Linked DNA regions of Homo sapiens: region 2 is linked to region 1. Evidence: fine-mapped expression QTL. A gene starts in region 1. The other region holds a variant in brackets. All regions are shown on one strand. Distances are from middle to middle.

Region 1 (5,380 bases):
ACATAAGTATACATACTTTTGTCAAATAAAAATAAAATAAAATATTTATTTTGTTAAAAATTTCACTGAAAATAGAAAGAGAACCAATGATTAAAAATGAAATCTCATCTGTGCATGTACATGTACATGCATAGGCACATGTGCATATATATGTGTATATAATGTGTATATATACACATTCACAAATATATATAAAAGTTTGGCTTATCATGTTAGTATATAAGGTTGTTTTGTGCATTAATTACAATTATGACAAATTTAAAAATCTCAGTAAAATATTTGGCACATAGAAACCATCCAACACATTTTTAACATTTTGGGAAAACATACATACACTAGTGTTTTACCTCTGATTGTTTCTGACTGGTGTGATGGGTGATTATTAATCTAATGTTTGCTTGCCTGCATTTTCTAATATTTCTACACATAGCATAACATGGTTAAAAGGGTGATAAACTCTGGAACTGGTCAACCTGGACTTGATCCCAACTGCTCCATGGACTGAAGTAGGGGACAATGAACAGGTTCCTGCCTCTGCCTCACTCCCCATTTGCAAATAGAGCACAAGAGTTATAGCTTCCACACAGGGATGCTGTGAGGATTAGTTGACTTAATACACACAAAATGCTAAGAAGTGCATCTGCCTTACAGGAAGAGAGCAATTGCTGAACTATTACTGCTGTCATTTGGGTACAGTGTATGTGTAAAAAAAATAATTTGAAAAGTGAGACCTTGCCCTCTAAGACCTGTGAGATGACATCACAGCAGGGCCCAGTGGGCAACTGAGAGGCTATTGTGCCCAGCCCTGTGACCGGGGGTCAGCTGCATGGTCTGAAAAAGGGGTGAAGACAGGCAGCCTGTCTGGGAGCTGTGAACAGGGCTCTCTCAGGTGGCACCAGGAAAGACCTCCCAATCCTGTCTGCCTGGGGGAAGGGAAAATAAATTCTCCAGAGGAAAGTCAAGATGACCAAGGGAGATGGTGGTGCCTGTTATGGGCTGAATGTGCCCCCAAAACGAATGGGTTGAAGCCCCAATCCCCAGCGCCTTAGAATTTGACCATATTTGGAGACAAGGTCTTTAACCCATTTATGCCCGAGGTTGCAATTTTTTTTTAATTTGAAAAATCAGACCTTGGCGATGCCCTTGAGCAGTAGGATATAAATAACTCCCGCAAGCTTAGTGATCCAATAACGGAGCACTAGGCATAAATGGGTGAAGCAATTTAGTTAAATGAGGTCACTGGCGGGGAGCCTTAATCCAATATGGCTGATGTTCTCATAAGAGAAAATGAGAATACAGACACACACAGAGGAAGACCATGTGTCAAGACACATGGAGGAGATGGCCTTCTACAAGCCAAGGAGAAAGACCTCAGTAGAAACTAACCCTGCTGGCATCTTGATTTTGCAATTCAGCCTCCAGAACTGAAAGAAAGAAAGTAAATGTCTATTGTTTTAGTTACTGAGTCTGTGGTGCTTTGTTGTGGAAGCCCTAAGAAAGGAATATAGGACGCTGTAAGCATGAAATGTGGAACTTCTTAAAGAGGAGGAGGGCACACAAAAATGGGTAGGAGGACTCAAGACAGGTAAGGATTTAATAATGATTCTTCTGTGTTTGTCAAATAAAATATTATAAAAATGTAACTAATTGTGATGGTGGCAGAAGCCTCACAAGGTTTGATGCCTCTGGTAGCCAGCTGCAGATCCACAGAGAAAGTGCTCAGCTCCCTGATCTTCTGCTCTTGGACAATGTCCAGTCCTTGACCTTCCTTGGCAGTGCTTGTGCTTATCTGAAATTGCTGCAAGTCCAGGGGCAAGGCTAGGTCCAGGAAGCAGGGAGAAAGGGTTCTAGCCCAATGCAATGCTCACCTGTAAGTCCCAGCAGTAGAGTCAGAAGCAGGAAAGGACCAGGAGGATGGGGCCAGGAGGCTGGGACAGGCATTTTGGAGACCTCAGAAGCCTGCTCTGTTCAAACGTCTGTTCTGGGGAGATGTCAGGCCCTGCTCTGAAGACAGAAGACAAGCCCTGCCTCCCTCAATTCAAGAGGAAGTGGCTATGATGGAATGCAACAGTAACCTGCTTCTAGATTGTGACTTACAAATCAGGCACAGTAGGCAGCTACAAAGCAAGGAGTTAATCGTGCTCCATTTTCAGGATAATCAGACAGGGTTAGCAGAAATAATGCTTCCTGCCTGCCTGGGACCTGTGCTCCCTCCTCGTGTCCCCAAACCCATTTTCAGGTCTTCTTGGTGATTTGCCATTTGAGGCTTTTAAGTCAAGAAAGATCTGTTGTTAGGTATTGTTTTCTAAAGTCTTTATTTCAAGACCCTAGGATGTGGTTGGCTTGTGGTCTTGTTCTGCACCAGCCTCAACCAAATGCCACTCCGCTGGACGTAGGAGAAGAGTTCACAGGACCTGCTCAACACTGGAGAGGAACCAGATCTTCTCCTGAAATGATTTTCTATTCCAAATTGCTATAATTGGCAACACTTAGCCCAAATTCAGTCTCTTGTGGACCTTAGCACTTTCATGTGCCTGCACCCAGCAGAAGGAATTATTTCTTGACTCCTTCCAGGAGAGAAACTGGGTTTGAGGTAATAAGCAACTGCTTTGTGGAGTGAGGTGGGGATTGTGGGTTATGGAAAGGGGATAGGGTTATCATGAGGGAAGATTATGGTGGGCAGGTTCCTGGGGCCGTCGCATCAATTTCAATACCCTTTCTTCTACACACAGAGCACCTATTTCATTCATCACTGAGTTCGGATGGGAAATGAGGAAAGAGGAAAAATCCATGCTCCTGCCAAGAGTGTGTGCCAAGGAGTTGGGGAAGTCGCTGGGCCCTCCTATGCTCAGTTTCAATCTCCTAAACTGGGAATAGTAAGTCTTTTTGTGCAGTGTTTTAGTGACGATTAAAGAGGTAATGAGCATATCATGCCTGAAACCCAGTAGGTCATTATTGATACTCACGGTGCCAGGTGAAGTGCGGGAACTCAAATGTTGCTTTTGAATGGATCCCTCCTGCATGCTGAGTTGCCCACCAGTGGCTTTCTCCCAGCAACCCAGGCCTCCTGAGACCCAGCTTATATAGTGTATTTGGACTCTCGCTGCCACCCTGAAATCAGTTTCTCCCTCTGGATTCTCTAAATCCCGCTCCTTGTTCAACCATAGATTAATTCCTCCTCTTACAATTTCCAGCTGTGTGATTTTCAAAAAGACACTACTTCTCTGAGCCTTGGTTTGATTGTATGTAAATAAATGTTAGAATATGCACCTTGTAGAGCTATGGTAGGAATAATATAAGCCATACTGAATGCTTGACTCATAATTAATTATAAGCAAAAAAACATGGCTATAATTATTTTCTGTGTACAGGAAGAGTCCACTGGTTCTCTGCCACCGTTGTGCCTTAGAAAAGCCACCTTGTTAAAAGAAATGATTTCTCTTCCAGCATCTATGACTAAGAAAGACCTGTCCAGAATCCTTCATCTCACATGTGGGTTTTAGGTTCTTAATCTGTCATGAATAATTGTCAAATCAAATTGTAAATGTTATCATGTTTTAATTGAAAGTCCTGTTTTAATGTGGCAGATGTACACAGGGTGAAATCTTCCCCTCCTTCTCCACACCCACAGTAGTGAAAACACAAAATGAAAAGAATATATGAATCAATGTCTAATTACACTTGAATACAAGCAATTGGCTTCTATATGACATGAAGGAATTATAACAGCTATCATTTATTGAGAGTTTCCTGTGCTCCAGATATGGTGCCAAGCATTTTTCTATTGGTAATGTCATTAAATCATTGCTCTGACCCCATGAGGTAAGCTCAACCATTAACCTCCTTTCACAGGTGAGAAAACCCGAGGCACATGGAGAGTAATGAATTTGCTCAAGATCACCCGGCTTTTAGAACTGGAACATAGGCTGCCACACTCCACAGCCTTCACTTTTAATGGTTGTACTATGATACCTCTTGCAGGAAGGGAGAGACATCCCTCAGGAAGAAAGCAGAGAAGAAGCTATAGCCTCAATTAGGAGCAGCCCTCATAGTGAGGCTGGGGCAGGTGCCATGCTCCACGAGGCCCTGACAACCCATGATCACATGGGGAATTATTCCTGGGAAGACGGAAGTGCAAGCAAGAATCACCAAAGATTTGAGGAACAGCACTGCAGCTAACAAATTCAAGAAAAACAATAACTCAAAAACAAATAGCAATCAAAAGAACTTCACACCTGAGCAAATATGAAAAAACAAAATGTGTAAAGTTCTTTAAAGTTAGTATACTTAATGATCTTATAAGGAAAACAAAAGAGAAGTAAATTCATAAACCAACATCAGGCATGTAATAATATGAAACAGAAATAGGCGGGCATGAGGTAACAACAACCATCTTGAAAAAATACCAAAACACAGACTTTGGAAATGAAAACATAATCAGTGCTGAAATTTTTTAAAAAAACTTAATAGGTTGACTAGCTGACTATACATAAATAAGTATAATAGTAAGTTAGTAAGCTGGGTGATTATGTAGGGGAAATTTCCTGTGGTACAGCACAGAGACACACCCAAACAAAGTAATGTGGATAGGTAAAAATATACCACAATATTGTGGTATATCTTTTCCTATTGCTCTATTTTTACCTATCCACATTACTACATTACTTTGAGAGGTGTGAGTCATAAAGTATTATGTCTCCAAAAATAAGAATTGGGCGTATATGACTCAAAAATGCATAGTATAGTGTCAGGAAGATGGCAGAATCTGTGCTTAGAGCAGCAAGTGCCTTCCTGTGAACTTCAATCCTTCAGTAAAGATCAACTAAGTACACAGATGCTTACAATTTTTGTGGAAATCACGTGGAGAATTGAAATTTAAATTTAGGTGACTTGGGGAAGCATAGATAAAATCTGAATGTTTGAGAGGACCAGGAACCTGGGAGTCCATGAGCCAAAATTCTCCTTTATCTGCCATATTTCACCCTGACTCATCACAGCAGGTGCAGATAACCAGGGACGACTTTGGGACACATGAGAAACTGGGAGCCAGTGGATGCTCCAGAAGACTAAAGATGTAAGACTGTGGGCTTAAGAATCAAAACTTCCTGGTCTGAAATCCAGCTCTAATGGGTCCCAGCTGTGTGATCCTGGGGTCACTATTAACTTCCCTGTTTCCTGAGTTTCCCCAAGTGTACAACGGAGAGAATAATCATACCATCTTCATAAGTTTGTGATGAGAATTAAATGAACTAATATATGCAAATTACTTAATACTATCTGACCATGTCCTCCAAAAGTTATATATTCAGTATTACCATTATCATTATAGATAGTAGTTAGATATTATCGTTATTAGGTAGTGTTTTGGTAATAGCAACAA
Region 2 (5,380 bases), 92 kb before region 1:
CGCCCCCATGATTCAGTCACCTCCTACCAGGCCCATCCCACAACACATGCAGATTACAATTTAAGATGAGATTTGGATGGAGACACAGAGCCAAACTATATCACTCCATATTAGAAATATACAAAAAAAGGCAAGCACTCTTCCAACTACTCTGGATACATTTTTACAAAGAAACAGCACTTGAACTCTCAATGTTTCTAATGCTTTGAATTGTAGTGCACAAATAAATATTTATTTCATTATATTTTCATTGTCCTCTACATTTGTAACTGAGAGTGTGAGAGTTTCTAATATTTTGACAAAAAATGGTAAAGGTCACAGAATGATCATTGTTTTTCTGATTGACTATGGAGACTGCTTTCCTGGGTTTCAGGTTGCACAGTCATTTTTGCAATCTTGCACTGCCATGAAAAGTGAGGGCTGCCTGTATTCGGCATAATACTCATCAAAATAAGGGCTAAAGAAAAATTAATTAGGATAAGAGAAATTAGAATGCCGGGATAGAGAAAATAAATAATATTTTATACAAGGTAGTTTATAGAAGGTGCCTTTAATGAAGTGACATTGAGCAGAGACTTGAAGGAGGGAGAGCGGGAGCCATGCAGCTGTGTTGGGGAAGAAGCAGAGAAGTGATATGATTTGACTTTTCCAAAGAATCACTGTGGCTGAAAAATGAAAGCCAGAGGAGTGGTCCCCAAAGAGATGATGCTGGCTGGGACAGGGAGGGGTGGTGGAGGTGAGAGGTGTGGAGAATAGGGATTTAACTCTGAGGTTTCCAGCAGCAGGCTTGGACTGGGCCCTGAAAACCAATTGTTAAATTTCAGGAATCTTGCAATCTGGTTGTTTAACTGTTGGCAGTGTGAAATTGGTCAGGTTGGGAGTTATTACACTAGAGAAATTGGCAAGCACTGCAAAACAGCTTTTGGTTTTTCCCTTTCAGAAAGTCCATTGTTAAACATTTACCATCTCATGTAAGTGGACACATGCATTTTGGAGGCAGAACTGAATATGAGTTGTAAAGGGCAGTCATCGAGGGCTCCTCAATGTTGGGCTGTGGCAGCATTTCTACCACAAGCAGCAGGACTGGGAAGGCTGCAGGATACTAGAAGAAATACTGTCTCCATCACAGAGAGAGAAGGGAGAGCTTCTTTCTTTTTGGGTTTGAGGGATAGGATGCTTGGACAAAGAGGAAAGAGAATCATTTTTTTCTTAAAATTGGTATAGGGGTTCATGTGTATTCAGGAGGCAGTAGAGAACCTCAACAAGGCTGGGGGAGTTGGGGTAGGCAGGAATCCAGAAGACAGGATAACTCTTGAGAGCCTGGAGAGAGTCTGTGGTTTATGGCCAGTCCCAAGGCGACGGATGGGAGAAGTCCTGGTGTGTTTAGATTTGGAGTGTTTCTCACCTTCTAGGGAGGTGCCATGAGTCAGTGCCCAGAGCCCAATCCCATGGCCCCTGCTCAGGACCGTGAATAGAGACACTGCTTTGGGGCATCATGGTCTTGTGAAGGTGGAACAGGAGCGTGTGGGCAGGCAGATGACCTGGGAGAGGAGGCGTTTGGAGCTGAGTGTGGGGAAGGTTCTCGCCAGCTCCTTCTCTCAGGCTGAGCTTCTCAAGAAAGGAGGAGGCAGCAGAGACTGAGGGTCCTACATGGCAGGGAAGGAAGGAAGGAGCTGTTGGAAAACACATCCACATTCATTCATCTGCTCATCATTTAAGAAATGTTTCCTGAGAGCCTGATATGTCCCTAGTGCTGGTCTCCTCTTGGGATGCCTGTTATGGGTGGACAGGCAGACCTGAGATAGGACTCTGCCAGCTCAGCACTTCTTCCAAGTCCTGATGCTCCCTCTTCCCCGCTTTCCACTCAAGCACACAGAAGGTCAGAGCAGGAACAGCCCTCAGAGCAGCCTATCTGGGAATTCTCAACACTACGGTGGGGATTACTTTGAACCCATGGAGTCCCAGCAGTGGCCTCCAAGGGACCACCCACTCAGTTGGCCCTCACTTAGACCCCTCTGTCCACCTTTTCCATGGGACTCCTAGGCCACTGGGGACAACTTTGAACCCCCTTGAAGCATCCCACCTCCTGTAATACCCTTGACCATCCCAACTCCTGCACACTCCCTGGGGGTTGGGAGCCCCATACAGGGTTCCCTGAGACTCCTGAGTATCCTGAGGGAGCCCTGTCACCTTCTGTAAACTCCACTGACCCTGAAGCTGCATGGCATGTGAGCTGGGCCCTCCTGCTGGCCTTGCCTTTCTGGAGGAGCCCTTGGTCAGTCCTCCCTCTCCTAAACTTACAGTCAGGCCTTCTGTTTCCAGCAGATGTAGATGGCAGAGACACCAACCACCAGTAGCAGCTTGGGGCCCAGGAGGAGAGCTACGAGGAGTGGAGCAGTAGGAGCCAGCGCTG[C/G]TTCTGGAAATCAGGGAAGAGGAGGAGCCATGAGAGGGGCCACCTGGGAGCTCATCCCAGGGGCCTCCACTTACCCCATCTGAGGCTACCTGGGCCCATCAATCCTCTGAAGCTTTTGAACTTGCATCCTGCTCTGGCTTTCCTGACTCCAGCCGAAAGCAAAGGCCAGGGAAAGTGGCTCCTCATTCTCACTCACCCTGTCCCAGGCTGCCAGTTTATCCTCCTGGAGGGAAAAGGTGGAGAGAGTGTGTGCTCAGGTATTCATATATGTGGCAACTGGGTTCCTCACTTGATCCTCACACGCCCATGGGGCAGGGATTATTATTCCATTCTGATGGGGAAACTGAGGCCAGAGAGTTTAGGGAGTGTCAGGAGATTAGTAGGATCCAAACCTAGGGAAGCCCATCATTATGTCCCCAAGGGTGACTCCTGAGTCCAAGACAAGTCCAACACTCCAGGATCATGAGAATGATTAGTAAAGGGTGGGCAGGTGGTGTGAGGATGGATTCAGAGTGAGAGAGTTGCATGCTGCCCTTCTTAGCCCCAGGGGCAGGGAGAGGACCCCATATTCTCATGATCTCAGGGAGCCCTCCAGGGACAAGACCCAATTAAACCTGCTGGCTGGAAAATTCCCTGGTGAGTCAGGGAATGTGCCTCGGGCTTGGAAGGGCCTCAGACATCATCTCTCCTACCTCAACCCCAGTGCAGATGTCATCTGAAATCTTTCTGTTGGACACAGAGAGTCAGATCTACGGAAGCTCATGTTGGGACTGTTTGCATTTTTTAAATAAGGGGTTTTGGATGTTAAAAGTAACAAAGGTATTAAAAAAAATTTTTTTTAAAATAAAATGGTGCTGGTGGGTCCTTAAGGAAGGAATGGAGACCTCAGCATCTATAGCCGCTGGAGTGTTGGAGTGTTGCAGGCCGGCAGTTCTCAGATGGGTGGCTCTCTGGGGCTTTCTCTCCTTTGAGGAGAGCTGCACTGCCCAAGTTTATTCCTTCTAAGGGGCAGCCCACATGAGAGATAGACTGCATTGGGAATATGAAGGGCCAGCCCTTCCCCTCAATTTGAAAAAAATCTACAGGACCCTCCGGCCTTTTGCCTCTCTGCAAGAGCAGCTGCATCTTTGTACTGCCTGCACTGTGGCTCAGCACCTCCCTCCTCCTACACTCCTGCCTCCTCATTCCTGAGGCATGTTGACCCTGACAGCACTCTAGGATGCCTCCTGCATTGCTTTATGCATCCTCAGGTGGCCTCCCAGAGAAACTGTCCTTGGGAAGTGGTCTGGAAAGAAGACTCTAAAATATAAGTTGGGAATCTGATTACTCATCAGCTAGCAATGAGGACCCCAGGGCTGGTGGTGAATGGGACTGGAGAAGCCGTGACTTGCTGTTGTGTTGCGATTGATAACACTTTCACTGGCACTAAACTGGGATAGTGTTACCACAGGAAGGAAATTCCTTGCCATTAGCCTTTTGAAAACAGATTGGGAAATGGTCGTTATAAGAACTAAGGTGTTAGCTGTTGCTGGGCATGAACTCTTGGGAGGAAGGCAATGAGAAACTAAGAGTGATTCATCATGAGTTAAAGTTCAGCTGGAAGCCAGAGGACTTCTTGGCAGCACTGCAGATTCTTATTTCTTGGAGCCACAGGGCAGAAGGAATAGAGAATTGGGTCCTGGGCATCATAGAAGAGTAGCAGAATCACAGCGGAGCATGAATCTCAGTTTCAATGGCTGCTATGCTGGGATAGGGCCCTGATGGGGAAGTTGTGGGACCCTGAAATGTGGAAGGAGACATTTGGGTCAAACCACTCAAAGATTGTCAGTTGACTTCAGAGTTACTGGGGACAATTGCAGTGGCATCGCTACTTGTCGCTATAAATATCCTCCCCAAGCCAAAAGAAGAAACAGAAAAGGAAAAGTAAATTCTACACAATCCAGGCCCTAAATATTGCTTGAAGAGAGAATGCCAAACTGCAAAATGGCTGAGTCAAAAGGGAACACTCACCTAACCCTAGGGCACAGTCTCTCACTAGGCTCCCATGCCACTGATGCAGCACGTCACAGAAGGCATCCTGCAGTTTGCCTGCCAGCCTAGACAACCTAAAATGCATTTCCAGACTTAGCATATGTGCCAGGATGCCATGTCAGACACACTGAAAGAACCCAAAAATGGCAGCCCTCTCTCAGCCCCAGTGGGTGGTTGGAAGTCTAAGAAAAGACTCAACCTTGTCCAGATGGTACAGACTCATCTCATCCTGTGCCTCCTTGAGAAGTACAACTATGAACCCAAGAAATATCATGAGGAGCAGGCATAGGAGAACTTCCAAGGTGGAAGAGCGAGGTAAGAACCTGAGGACTGAGGAACAGCCCAGCAGCCAAACAGCAGGGACTCTATGCCCAAATACCAGCCCCCAGCCACAGAAAGTGATGAAGGGAGGACATAGAAAAGAGGAGGTCTCAAGTCAATAAATATAAATCCCGCACTTAAAGAAACTACAAAAAGTAGGGCAAAGTAAACCCAAAGAAAGCAGGAGATAGGAATTAATTTAAAAAAAAAAAGAGAGAAGAGAGCAGATAATTAATGAAACTGAAAACACAAAAACAATACAAAAACCCATTGAAACAAAGAGTCAATCTTTTGAAAACACCAATAAAATGGGAAAAAACTCTAGCATGACTGATGAAAAAGAAAAGAGAAATGACACATTTTTAGTATCAGGATGAAACGTGGGATACCATTGCAGACCCTGCAGACACCAAAAGGGTTATGAGAGGATATTATGAACAACTCTACACACATAAATATGACAACTTAGATGAAATGGACCAAAAGTTATGCAAAACACAACTTACCAGGGCTCACTCAATAGGAAACGAAAAATGTGAATAACCCTAAACTATTAACGACATTGAATCTATGATTATAAAATATCCAAAAATATCCCTGGGGCCCAGATCTTTC

What was found. PIP is the estimated chance that this variant, and not a neighbour inherited with it, causes the effect.
Region 2: its variant is the best candidate, but not a certain one, in a credible set for the expression of SIRPG in blood mononuclear cells (TOPMed, PIP 0.72).

The regions. Positions count from the first base shown.
Region 1 is chr20:1,655,774-1,661,153 of GRCh38, forward strand. It overlaps SIRPG (signal regulatory protein gamma), which reads right to left and starts at 2,006. Exons shown (of 6, transcript NM_018556.4): 1 at 1,869-2,006. The coding sequence starts at 1,941.
Region 2 is chr20:1,563,852-1,569,231 of GRCh38, forward strand. SIRPB1 (signal regulatory protein beta 1) reads right to left here. Exons shown (of 6, transcript NM_006065.5): 5 at 2,302-2,416; 6 at 1-1,646. The coding sequence ends at 2,304. Among named protein-coding and RNA genes, the nearest start is that of SIRPD, 8.8 kb to the left of the region's middle. The variant C/G (reference allele first, on the strand shown) is at 2,414.